Linked DNA regions of Homo sapiens. The protein of the gene in region 2 interacts with the protein of the main gene of each other region in a biochemical or structural test. Each region holds a gene or a part of one and is shown on either strand. Other genes may lie near its edges.

What was found.
Region 1: the proteins of SLC9A2 (region 2) and SPTA1 form a complex in vitro, tested with the Homo sapiens proteins (one study listed by BioGRID).
Region 3: the proteins of SLC9A2 (region 2) and CHP1 form a complex in vitro, tested with the Homo sapiens proteins (one study listed by BioGRID).

The regions. Positions count from the first base shown.
Region 1 is NC_000001.11:158,680,014-158,683,767, forward strand, and holds part of SPTA1 (spectrin alpha chain, erythrocytic 1), read right to left. Parts: intron 3,484-3,754; coding exon 3,358-3,483; intron 1,655-3,357; coding exon 1,514-1,654; intron 717-1,513; coding exon 570-716; intron 1-569.
Region 2 is NC_000002.12:102,699,551-102,703,304, forward strand, and holds part of SLC9A2 (sodium/hydrogen exchanger 2 precursor), read left to right. Parts: intron 1-1,519; coding exon 1,520-1,681; intron 1,682-2,855; coding exon 2,856-2,952; exon of another isoform or gene 2,953-3,177; intron 3,178-3,754.
Region 3 is NC_000015.10:41,228,977-41,232,730, reverse strand, and holds the start of CHP1 (calcineurin B homologous protein 1), read right to left. Parts: upstream 1,464-3,754; 5' UTR 1,349-1,463; coding exon 1,282-1,348; intron 1-1,281. UniProt on the Homo sapiens protein: Calcium-binding protein involved in different processes such as regulation of vesicular trafficking, plasma membrane Na(+)/H(+) exchanger and gene transcription. Involved in the constitutive exocytic membrane traffic.

The DNA.
Region 1 (3,754 bases), on a different chromosome or scaffold from region 2:
TTATTTATTTTACATCTATATACTTACATATACATGTAAACTTATATATATATACACATCACAAACTTAAGTATTTTCTTAAGTAAATAAAAGTAAAACCGCTTCCTTTCCTTCCTCAATCCTCCGAAATAATCTTGTATAATGATATTACATATGCATATATATGTATAAATAATGATAGCTCAACATTATTTTATATGCTCTGCTACTTTATTTTTGTGTTTTTTCATGAAGAAAGAGTGCCCCATTAACATGAGTAATCAGTGTACTGCATGGTACAGAAGCTACTATATAAATGGCAATAGCTTCACTGCCCATTGTGTATTTAATTTCTCCAAACACACAAAAACACACTCTCTCTTTCTCTCTCAACCCTCCATTTCAATAGACTTGTAAGGGGTGGGTCCAGAGGGGAGAGGAAACTGTTCAGAATATGTTACTCCAGGAACATGCCAACCTCTGTTTTCTCACAATGCCCCATCTCCTTCATATCCATCTACTAATGGCCAGAAGTTATTCTTAAGGATAAGAACCCTTTGCACGGAGTGAATATTTTGCTCCCACCTCACCTCGGCACACTCATTGGCATATTGGTTCACTTCAACAACTCTCCCTTCTTTAGCTACCAGCTCCACTTGGAAGTCTTCAAATTTCTTATGCAGAACTTCGGTGCGCTCCCAGTCTTCACCTAGCTCCACTGATGTCGCTATAGCCTCCTGTAGACACAGAAGTTGATTGAGTTGCCAGCAAACATTTAGGAGTTTCTGTAGGTCAAAAACTCAAAACTCCTGCTTGCATTCCCAGGATAACTCAAATGGAGATACTGGGGGAGACTGGGAGAAGCTCTCCTGGAAAAGGCCAGCAGCAGAAGTATATTTGTTAAGGTAGCACCTTGGCACAAGGGAAAGTGCTCTTTCGGGCAGTTCTTTAGCAAGTTTGTGGCATTACTGGCAAGAGACCCTGAAAGTACCCTTTTGTGTTTTGAAACATGAGGGATAAATTCATCCTGTTTCTACTCAATTCAACATATCAGTATCTACGAAAGTATTTTGTTAGGCATTTGCTTATCTAAATCTTTAGTCCTAACTATTAAATTATTCCTTTAGTATTTAGAAAAATAAAACCCTCCATCTTTATAGGCACTGAGACACAAAGGATTAGAGAAAGAGCTGTCAATACTCTCAGCCAGACCCCAGAGTAAGAGCAAAAACATAGGAGAAGGAGTTAAAAATCATGGAAGTGGAAGAGAGATGAGCCTAATTATCTTTCAATGCATGGTCTTTGTGTAAGTCTTGCCTTTTTCATATTCAGATCCATATGTTAAGACTTACTTCCATACAATGTTGACCTCCAGATACCCCTACATTTTGGCCCCAATTTCCTCTTGTTCCAAAGAACAAAGCCAGGAACAGACATCCTGACTTCCTTGTGAGTAGTCTGCAGTAATTTGCTATGGGGTACCTGGGACAGAGGAGTGGGAGGCCCTGTGTGATTGCTGTTTTAAGTTCGATACCTTGTCTCCAATCCACTCTAAGATGTCAGCACACTCCTGTACATACTGCTGGAACTTCAGGGCCCGCAGCAACTGGTCACCCTTCTCCAGGGTCAGCTCTAACAGCAGGTCCCACAGGTGGCGTAGCTCCTCTATATGGGCCTTTAGGAAAGAGGGGCAAAACCACTCAGCCACAGACACTGGGAGCAGGGAAACACTCAGAGACTTGTGCAGAAAGAGACCTGGATAAAAATTCTTCTCTCAGTTACTCATGCATTAGTTGCTCAACAAACATTTAAAAGAGGAAATAGGATAGATATATGGAAATAGCTAACAAGCCAAGCCAAATGCGATCTTACATAAGAGAACAATTTGTAAAAATGCTTTGCAGTTTTAAAGGATGGAATAATTACAAACAATAAGATGGGAAGGAGGAAGAAAGCATGGAAAAGTGTTCATTTGAACTGAGCCTTATGGAGCAGAAAGATTTTTGACAGGTCAATCATAAGCATAACATGTTCTAAGAAGAGCAAACAGCAATAGCAAAGGCATAGGAGAAACTTAGCATGAATTGTCTGCCAGAAAGTGTGAGAGCTATAATTTTTATAAGTTATAAGGAAATCATTGGCACCGAAACAATAACAGTGTTTTGGGACTATACAGTTTGAGAATCTACAGAGGGCTTTGAATGCCAGATTAACTCAGAACATTATGTATTACCTGTCTTATATAACTGAAATTGCCACCTATGTCATATCTTCAAGAATCTTATATTTTTCAACTACTCCATTGCTCTGGGTAGCATGTGGACCACATATGTCGTTAAACCCCGCAATGGTACCATTTGCTATAGCCCCAGTGATTCTGACAGAAATGAAGATGTTTCAAACATTTCTCAAATATTGTAATTAATGTAGATGCTGGTTACATGCAAAACTGTGCATAATACAAAAGTTAATTATACTTTATACAAATAAACAAGTTTTGAAATTTTCCTTTTATGGGTTCTTCTTTAAAATAAGATTCTATTCTGGCTAAAATCTGTGTCCGTTGACCATATTTTGATGACAGAATGGGCTAGAATTTTTATGCTATATATAGAAAGGCCAGACCCAGTTTTAAGATATATAATGCAAATTTGTTTTGACAATTAAAAAAATACATAAACAGTAAAAAGTTCACTCACACACAAAAAAATTGAATTGACAATATTAGCACAAACATTTGGAAGAGTTCGTAGATTAAGTCCAAAAATAGCTGTTACATTAATAATAGATTACAGAGTATGAATCCTTATTGAAATAGTGATGATCTTCATTTCTAGATGTTCAGAGAAAATTTTCTGACTACATGACATTTGGGAGTTTTTAGAAGTAATAAGAAGGGACAGTTTGGAGAGGTGCAATAGTAGTCATAGGGTATGGTGTATGAAAAGAAAGAGGCATCATAGACAAAGGAAAAATATTTTGGAAAACATTCAAATGAGAGAGCATTCCTTATTTGGAGAAGTTAAGAGACAAGGACATTGAGGTTAGAGGAAATAATTAGAAAGAACATTGGAAAAAACTAATTGATCTGGATAATGTGGAACAGGTTTAAGTGGGCTTGATCTTGAGCCAAATTATCCTGCACTGTTATAGGAGGAATTTTATGCCATTTAATGACAGCTTTAATATCACAGCTCTCTTCACCCCAAGAAACACGAAGATATCCCATCATTTTTTATGCCTCAACCCCAGGGGAAGATAAGAGGCAGGAGTCCTGGGTATAAGCCAGCCACTCAAGGTTTATATCTCATATAATCAGTTAAAACCCTGATAACATAATCAATAATTGGAAACTTCTTCAAGGGCCCATACATATACCTTCGTTTCTTCGTGGGCAGAATGACCCATGGTAAATCGTTCTTCCCTTGTTTTTTCCAGTTCAGACATGAGTCTTGATTTTGTTTGCACCTCTGCTTCAAGGGATTGATGCTTCTGATATTTCCCCTAAAGTTTAGAAATCAGAGTTTTTGTCTAATGAAGCACAGTCTTCATGGGAAATGTTCACTCTATGTAAAGCCACCAAACACAGGTTCTCAAAGGGTCCCAGACTCAGAGGCCATAAAGAGTATTTTCCTGTCCCCACTGGCTTTAGGAAGTTTTCAGTAAATACTGTCCTGAGCTATGCTGAGCCTTATGATCTATGCCGAGCCTTATTTTAAAGGCTCAATAGACTGCCATAGGAATAAAAGAGTGTAACACACAGTGTCCTTCCTCA
Region 2 (3,754 bases):
TCTTGGACCTGGGTGATAGCATTAGATGAGGTGGGAGATGGCTGGATTTTGTATGTATTTTGATGTGGAACCAACAGAAATTGCTGATGGCGCAAAGATTTGGAGTACTAGTCTGCTAGGGCTGCCATAACCAAAGTACCACAGATTGAGTGGCTCAACAGAAATGAATTGTCTCATAATCCTGGGGGCTAGAAGTCAGACAGCAAGGTGTCAGCAGGGCTCATTTCTTCTGAGGGCCACGAGGGAAGGTTCTGTTCTACGCCCCTCTGCTTGGCTTGTAGATGGCTGTCTTCTCCCTGCCTCTTCACATCATCTTCCCTCTCTCTGTATGTTTTGGAATCCAAACCTCTTCTTTTTATAAGTACACCAGTCATTTTGGATTTGGGCCCATTTTGATGGCCTCAACTTAATCACTTCTGTAAACACTAGATCTTCAAATGTGGTCATAGTCTGAGCTACTGGGGATTAGACTTTAACATATGAATTTTTGGCGGGACACAATTCAGCCCATAACATAGAACATGAGAAAAGTAGAAGAATCCAGGATGACACCAGGATTTTTGACCTGGTGGAGTCATCGTTTGCTGAGATGGGAGGACTCTGGCAGAATATCAGTTCAGTTTGAATATGTTAAATTTGGGATGCCCCATAGATATCCAACTGCAGATGTTGAGTAAGTAGCCAAAAGCTCATATCTGGGGTTTGGCCGAGAGGTTGGAGCTGGAGATACAAATCTGGGGGTCATTGGCATAGAGATGCTATTAAAAGCTAGGAGACTGGGCAAGATGGTGACGGGAGTGAGTGGCGGTATGAAAGAGGATTAAGAACCGAGGCCCAGAGCACTCCTACATTAACAGGTCAAAAGAAGAAAACAAAACTGAGAGGGAGGGTGAGAAGGAGGTTGGGGTACCCCAGGGTGGTGTCCTGGAAGCCAAATGAAGACAATAGTTTACACAAGTGAGGGCAGGAAAGATGAGGATTCATAATTGCCCACTGCAGTTATATCATGAGGTTCACAGACCACTTTGATAAGAGTAGCTTTAATGGAGTATTGAGGCAATGTGAATGTTCAAGAGAGAATCAGAGGAGAGGAATTGGGGAAAACAAACAGTGATAACGTTTCTGAGCAATTTCGCTAAAAGCAGAAGTAGAGAAATGGTAAAGACAGAAACATGTATTTTAATCTGTAATTAATGAATACTAGATTTATGTGCATCAGGGTCATATACAAAAATGTAGCAGTATGTGTCATATATACATATATGTGTATGTGTATGTATATATACATATGTATACATACACATACATATACATACGCATACACATATATACATATATACACATACACATATACATATATACAGGTAGGCACATACTAAATATATAAAATGACCAGATTAGCTAAATGCTGCTACTAAGTATTTTCCTGGGAATGGCAGAAATGACTTCATTGGTAAAAACAACAACTATTTTCTTAGTCAATCCAGTATTAATTTATTGAAAGTTTCTTTATTTACAGGTTTAAGAAGTTTGATGATAAATATCTGCGGAAGCTTTTGATTCGGGAAAACCAACCAAAGTCAAGTATTGTATCTTTATATAAAAAGCTTGAAATAAAACATGCCATTGAGATGGCAGAGACTGGGATGATAAGTACTGTCCCTACATTTGCATCTCTAAAGTAAGTATGGTCTTGCAAATAAAAGTTAGTATTGTTAAATAGGCATTGATAGTATTTTGAAACTGGTAATAATAATTTTAAAAAAATTATTATTAATTGATCCGCCCCCCTCGGCCTCCCAGAGTGCTGGGATTACAGGCATGAGCCACTGTGCCCAGCTGCAAATACTGAATCATTTTTCTATGGGGACATAAAGGTTAGGTTCCTTTGAGCCTGTGGTCACAAAATTTTCATCAGCCAATCAATATGTAACCTATTTTATGTATGTTTATGTTTACAGACACCTTATTTAATATATATTGCTAATTCATTAACATTGAATTGATGGTCAAGAACACTATAAATTCATGTATGATCAAGCTTAGTTAACAAATTTTCTCCATAAGGCACATCACAGGGTTCTTGTGCTTGGGAACTCTAGACAGCACTTCAGCAATGCCTGGGGGCCATTTAAAGCAGCAGAACCACCAATAAATAACATAAAAATATTAAAAAATCATGTCACTAAATAGACTGTGAGAAGGACATTATTTATAGTATGAGAGTGGAAACAAGAAAGCAGATGTCTCCTTGTTCAACATCTTCAGGGAAACTGTGTCAAGTGACTCAAATTTTTTGTCACTCTCCATATGTCTGAGAATAACTGCAAAAATACTGAAATTCTGATATTGGGTTTATAAATCAATATTAGCAAGTAGGTGAGGTGAGTTCATGATTATGGAACCCACAAATGAGGATTGACTGGATATACATACATGTTATAAATGGTGTGTTTGCAAATATTTATGATGAGGTTTTTAAAATATGAAAACTTAATGGTAAATTGAAGTCAATTAGGTTTCTGTTGGAGAAAACTATTCTATTTTACTTTATTTATGGAGTGTTAGAAATAATAAAGTGAGGTAGCATTATAAGCCATTGTAGTTTTTCTTCCCTGAAAACATAATGACATGAATAGATTCTGAAAACTTGTGAATTGTTAAACTTGCCATGAATGATTTTGAAACTGAAATAAGAGTCACAGAATTTGGAATTATTTTAAGTTATTGAATAATCCCTAAGTGCTATTTTTACAAATTAAGACTTGTCTTAAATACTTATATCTCTAAGGAAGAAAATCAATGATTCTAATATTTGTTGAAAGGTAAAATATTCTTTTTCTAAACTTTCACAGTGATTGTCGTGAAGAAAAAATAAGGAAGGTCACGTCCAGTGAAACTGATGAAATTCGAGAACTCTTATCAAGAAATCTCTATCAAATCCGTCAGCGAGTAAGAATAATTTATGTAGCAAAATATTTACTTACCTTTGGCTAACAGGATGCCTTCTGGTTTTGTGCTGTAACTGGAGGCTGCATCTTGACACTGGGCTCAGCAGGTCCCATGCTGGGCATCTTCTCTCCTTCTGCTTCTCTCCATCCCTCTTCAGGGTCCTACTATCCTCCTGGACACCATGGCTGAAGCCTTGGGGTCCCCTGGGAGTTCTGCTGCTGTGGGCTTGGATACAAAGAAATACACGTTGACTAATTTTAAAGAAATGAATTGATTGCTGTTTGTTTTAAAGAAATAGTTTTATAGCTTAGACTTTAAAAATGGACCTCACCCTCCTTGTTATTTATAAAGTGCTATAGTTTCTTCTCTTCTGAGCCACTTCTTTCACTTCGTTTCCATTGTTAGCACCTTATTCTAATAATTTGCTAACAACACAGCTACAGAGTAGAGAGTGTCCTCAATTTTCCAAGCCCCATTTCAGTGTGTTGCATGCATTAACTCATTTAATCCTCCAGTGAGTGGTAGGTGTTACTGTTGTCGCCATTTCACAGATAAAGAAATTGAGGCACAGGGAGGTGAAGTGGCACACGGGCCACACAGCTTGTCAGGAGTCCTCCTTGCTCATGTGGGGGCTGTTTCAGCAGCTTCTTAGCTGGTGTCCCCATAAGGTGTCCCCATTTCATCCACGTGACTCTTACCTGACCCTTTTTCCTACAGTACCTTTTAATTTAAAATGAAACAAAACATTAGTTGTGGCTCCCAAGCTAAACTATTCGTTGAAAATTTGGACTCTATTTCCAAG
Region 3 (3,754 bases), on a different chromosome or scaffold from region 2:
GCTCAGGTGCTACATCCTTCATTAACTCAATAAGAATCATAAAGGTTTACTGAAAAGATAAAATATTGTATGCATCAATACAATTGTATCATACATTGCATTATCAAGGACTATTCAAAGTTATGATGGTATTTTACAGCGCTTCAGAATCCCGAGTCCTTTTGCTCCTTTGTTCAGACTAATGAGGAAGAGACTGGACTATAAAAAAAAAAATCAGTTCTGCAGGGCACGGTGGCTCACACCTGTAATCCCAGCACTTTGGGAGGCCGAGGTGGGTGGATCACTTGAGGTCAGGAGTTCGAGGCCAGCCGGGCCAACATAGTGAAACCCCATCTCTACCAAAAATACAAAAATTAGCCAAGCGTGGTGGCAGGCACCTGTACTCCCAGCTACCTGGGAGGCTGAGGCAGGAGAACTGCTTGAACCTGGGAGGCGGAAGTTGCAGTGTGCCGAGATCACGCCACTGCACTCCAGCCTGGTTGACAGAGGGAGACTCCGTTTCAAAAAAAAAAAAAAAAAAAATCAGTTCCTAGTACAAATTCACACGGAGATTTTTGGAGCACATCCAATTTCAATAGCGAATAAAAAAGTACACCAGCATAGTAGAAATCAATACATATATGAGATTAGGACAGCAAGTATCGTCGTGTAAGTAAAAAACTGGTGGTCACAGTATCCGTGTTTTTTCTCTAGAAGTTCAGATTGAAAGAAGTCTCACAATCCCAGACCCCTGATTGTTTAAAGGTCTCCAGGCATCGGGTCATGTCTCCCAAAGCCTTACTACACGGTCTTGCTTTCTGGGTGGTTTTCCCAATTTGTGACAAGAACTTGTTTGTAATTTCCCATAGTTGTCAGAGGTTTTAGGTCCTTACCCAGAAACGGATTTTCTACAGAATCCATCTCGAGTTCCTGAATTTGCTTCTCGGGCTTTACCTACTGTTCAGGATGCCTCTTCATAGGGAAGGGTGGTGCGAGGCAACAGAAAGGAAAGGAGTTCGGGGACTTTGATGGGCAGGGTGCAGAAAAGGGGGGCGTCGACGCTCTACGAGTGATCAAGAGTCCCGATTTTGAAGGGAAGGACAGCCCCACAGTAGCTAGAGCCCCGCTCCAGGAAGCTGCAGCTGGAAGAACAGGTCTTCCAGCTCTCGGTCCCCAAACCTGGAGGCTGCCCAGGACCCCCCAACCTCACAGGCACCCGAGCTCCAGACCTTAGCGACAGCCGCCCTTGGTTGTGAGGCCAGCCTGAGGCGCCCGGCGTTCCCACCCCCAACCCGAACTCACAGCCGGTCTCCTTCTTGATCTCCTCGAGCTCTTCGTCCCGCAGTAACGTGGAGGCCCGAGAACCCATCGCCGTGCCGGGAGCTCCTCCGGGAGCAGCGGCGCCAGAAGAGACGGCGACAGGAGGGAAGGAGGGAGGGAAGGAAGGGCTAGGGGTCAAGAAGGGAGAGGGCAGTGTTTCCACTGCGGACCCGGGAGGGAACCCAGGGGTGGTGCGCTGGGGAGGGCGGCCCCGAGGACCCGCCAATCAGGCGCGAGGCAGCGCCCGGCTCAGGAGCCAACGTCAGCGTTCGAGTTCCAGCCCCGAATGAATCAGCCCAGCTCCAGCCCAAGTCCTGCTGAAGACGGACCCCGCCCCCGGAACCGCAGCTGCCACCGGCCTTAAAGGGGCGATGCCACTCGGTCGCTAACGACGCAATTAAAAGGGCAACGTCATTGACCAACAGTTTTACAACAAACTAACCTGCGACAGGCAGCGTAGTCTACCTTTTCTCACAGGAATCGAACACTAGGAATCCTACTCGATAGGTGGCACGGATTGCGGAGAGAAACTTCGCGTGGGGGGGAACCCTAGGGTGTACCCTTCGGGGACTGCACGCGCTCTTCATCTTTCCTGGCTGCCGTCCTCCTCCCGGCCGCAGGGGGCGCTGGGGAGCCGGCCTCGGGGCCGCGTGCTGATTGGCTCCTCGGGAAACAGACGAGACTGGACGTTGGGCCGGGCGGGCGTCGCCTCTGCGGCGTGTGTCCCCGGCGTCGCGGACCTTTCTCCAGGTTTTCAGCCTGTGATTTGATAACCGCCGCCGGGTGGCGTGGAGCGTCCCGAGACTTCTTCCTTCATTGCAGCCCCTCTTCTTTTAGTTCTAGACTGAAGTTCGAGGAACGCACCACTTGGCTGAAATTAGGATCCAGATTTCCCAAACTTCCTTCGGAGGAAAAAGCCCTAACGATGGAGGACAGTGAATTCCTAGCTTATGGTCCGCCATTTATTTGAAGTTCCTTATTTTGTCTTAAAAATGAGAAATTTTGCATTTTATTCTCATGGTGTATTGTTTGTTTTGATTAAAAAGGTAGGCCTGGCACGGTGGCTCACGCCTGTAATCCCAGCACTTTGGGAGGCCGAGGTGGGCAGAACACCTGAGGTCGTGAGTTCGAGACCAGCCTGACCAATATGGAGAAACCCCATCTCTAATAAAAATACAAAATTATCCGGGTGTGGTGCCGCGTGCCTGTAATCCCAGCTACTCGGGAGGCTGAGGCAGGAGAATCGCTTGAACCCGGGAGGCGGAGGTTGCAGTGAGCCGAGATCGCGGCATTGCTCTCCAGCCTGGGTGACAGAGCAAGACTCCGTCTCAAAAAAAAAAAAAAAAAAAGGTAAAAGCCACCCGTTAAATTAGTGCCTACTCTCAGGTGAACCAGTTCTTACTGCTTCACCTGCCTTACCCCTTCACACCTGTTTGGTTAGAACACGTATAAGATAAGGAAGAACCGAATTCTGACTGCTGTTAGTACCCAAGTACCAGGATATTTTTGTCGTAGCAGGCTTTCCCAGGTCAACTTAAGTTACTAGTTTTAAGTGTTACCTAAGGCTTTACAGCTTAGCCTGAGGCCCCACACGTTCCCTGCAAGCTGAGGTTCTAGTTTGAAGAACTAGAGTTTTGTTTGTTTGTTGTTGTTGTTGTTGTTTGAGACGGAGTTTTTGCTCTTCTGCCCAGGCTGAAGTGCAAAGGCGCCATCTCAGCTCACCGAAACTTCCGCCTCCCGGGTTCAAGCGATTCTCCTGCCTCAGACTCCCTAGTAGCTGGGGTTACAGGCATGCGCCACCGTGTCCAGCTAATTTTGTATTTTTAGTAGAGACAGGGCTTCTCCATGTTGGTCAGGCTGGTCTCGAACTCCGTATCTCAGGTGATCTGCCCGCTTCAGCCTCCCAAAGTGCTGTGATTACAGGCGTGAGCCACCGCACCTGGCTTGTTTTGTTTTTTTGCGACAGAGTCCGGGCTGGAGTGCAATGGCCTGATCACTGTGCATTTTCGGCTCACTGCAACCTCCAGGCGGGTTCAAGGGATTATCATGCCTCAGCCTCCTGAGTAGCTGGGATTACAGGCGCGTGCCACCACGCCCAGCTAATTTTTGTATTTTTAGTAGAGACAGGGTTTCACCATATTGTCTAGGCGGGTCTCAAACTCCAGAACTCAGGTGATCCACCCGCCTCGGCCTCCCAAAGTGTTGGGATTACAGGCGTGAGTCCCCGTGCCCGGCCTTAGAGTTATTTTTATGATTGTCGTGCACTTGTCTAACCTAGTGATGTTGTCCTTTGTACTCAGTAACATTTTGGATATGCCCGTCTAAGAGCTAAATCACTGGAGCTGCTTTGTATGTTGGAATATGGCTGTGATAGGAAAATTTTGTCAGCCCCATGAATGTCCCTTTTCTCAGTCAGCCTTGAAGCCCATCTCTTGATGCTGACCTTACTTTTTTC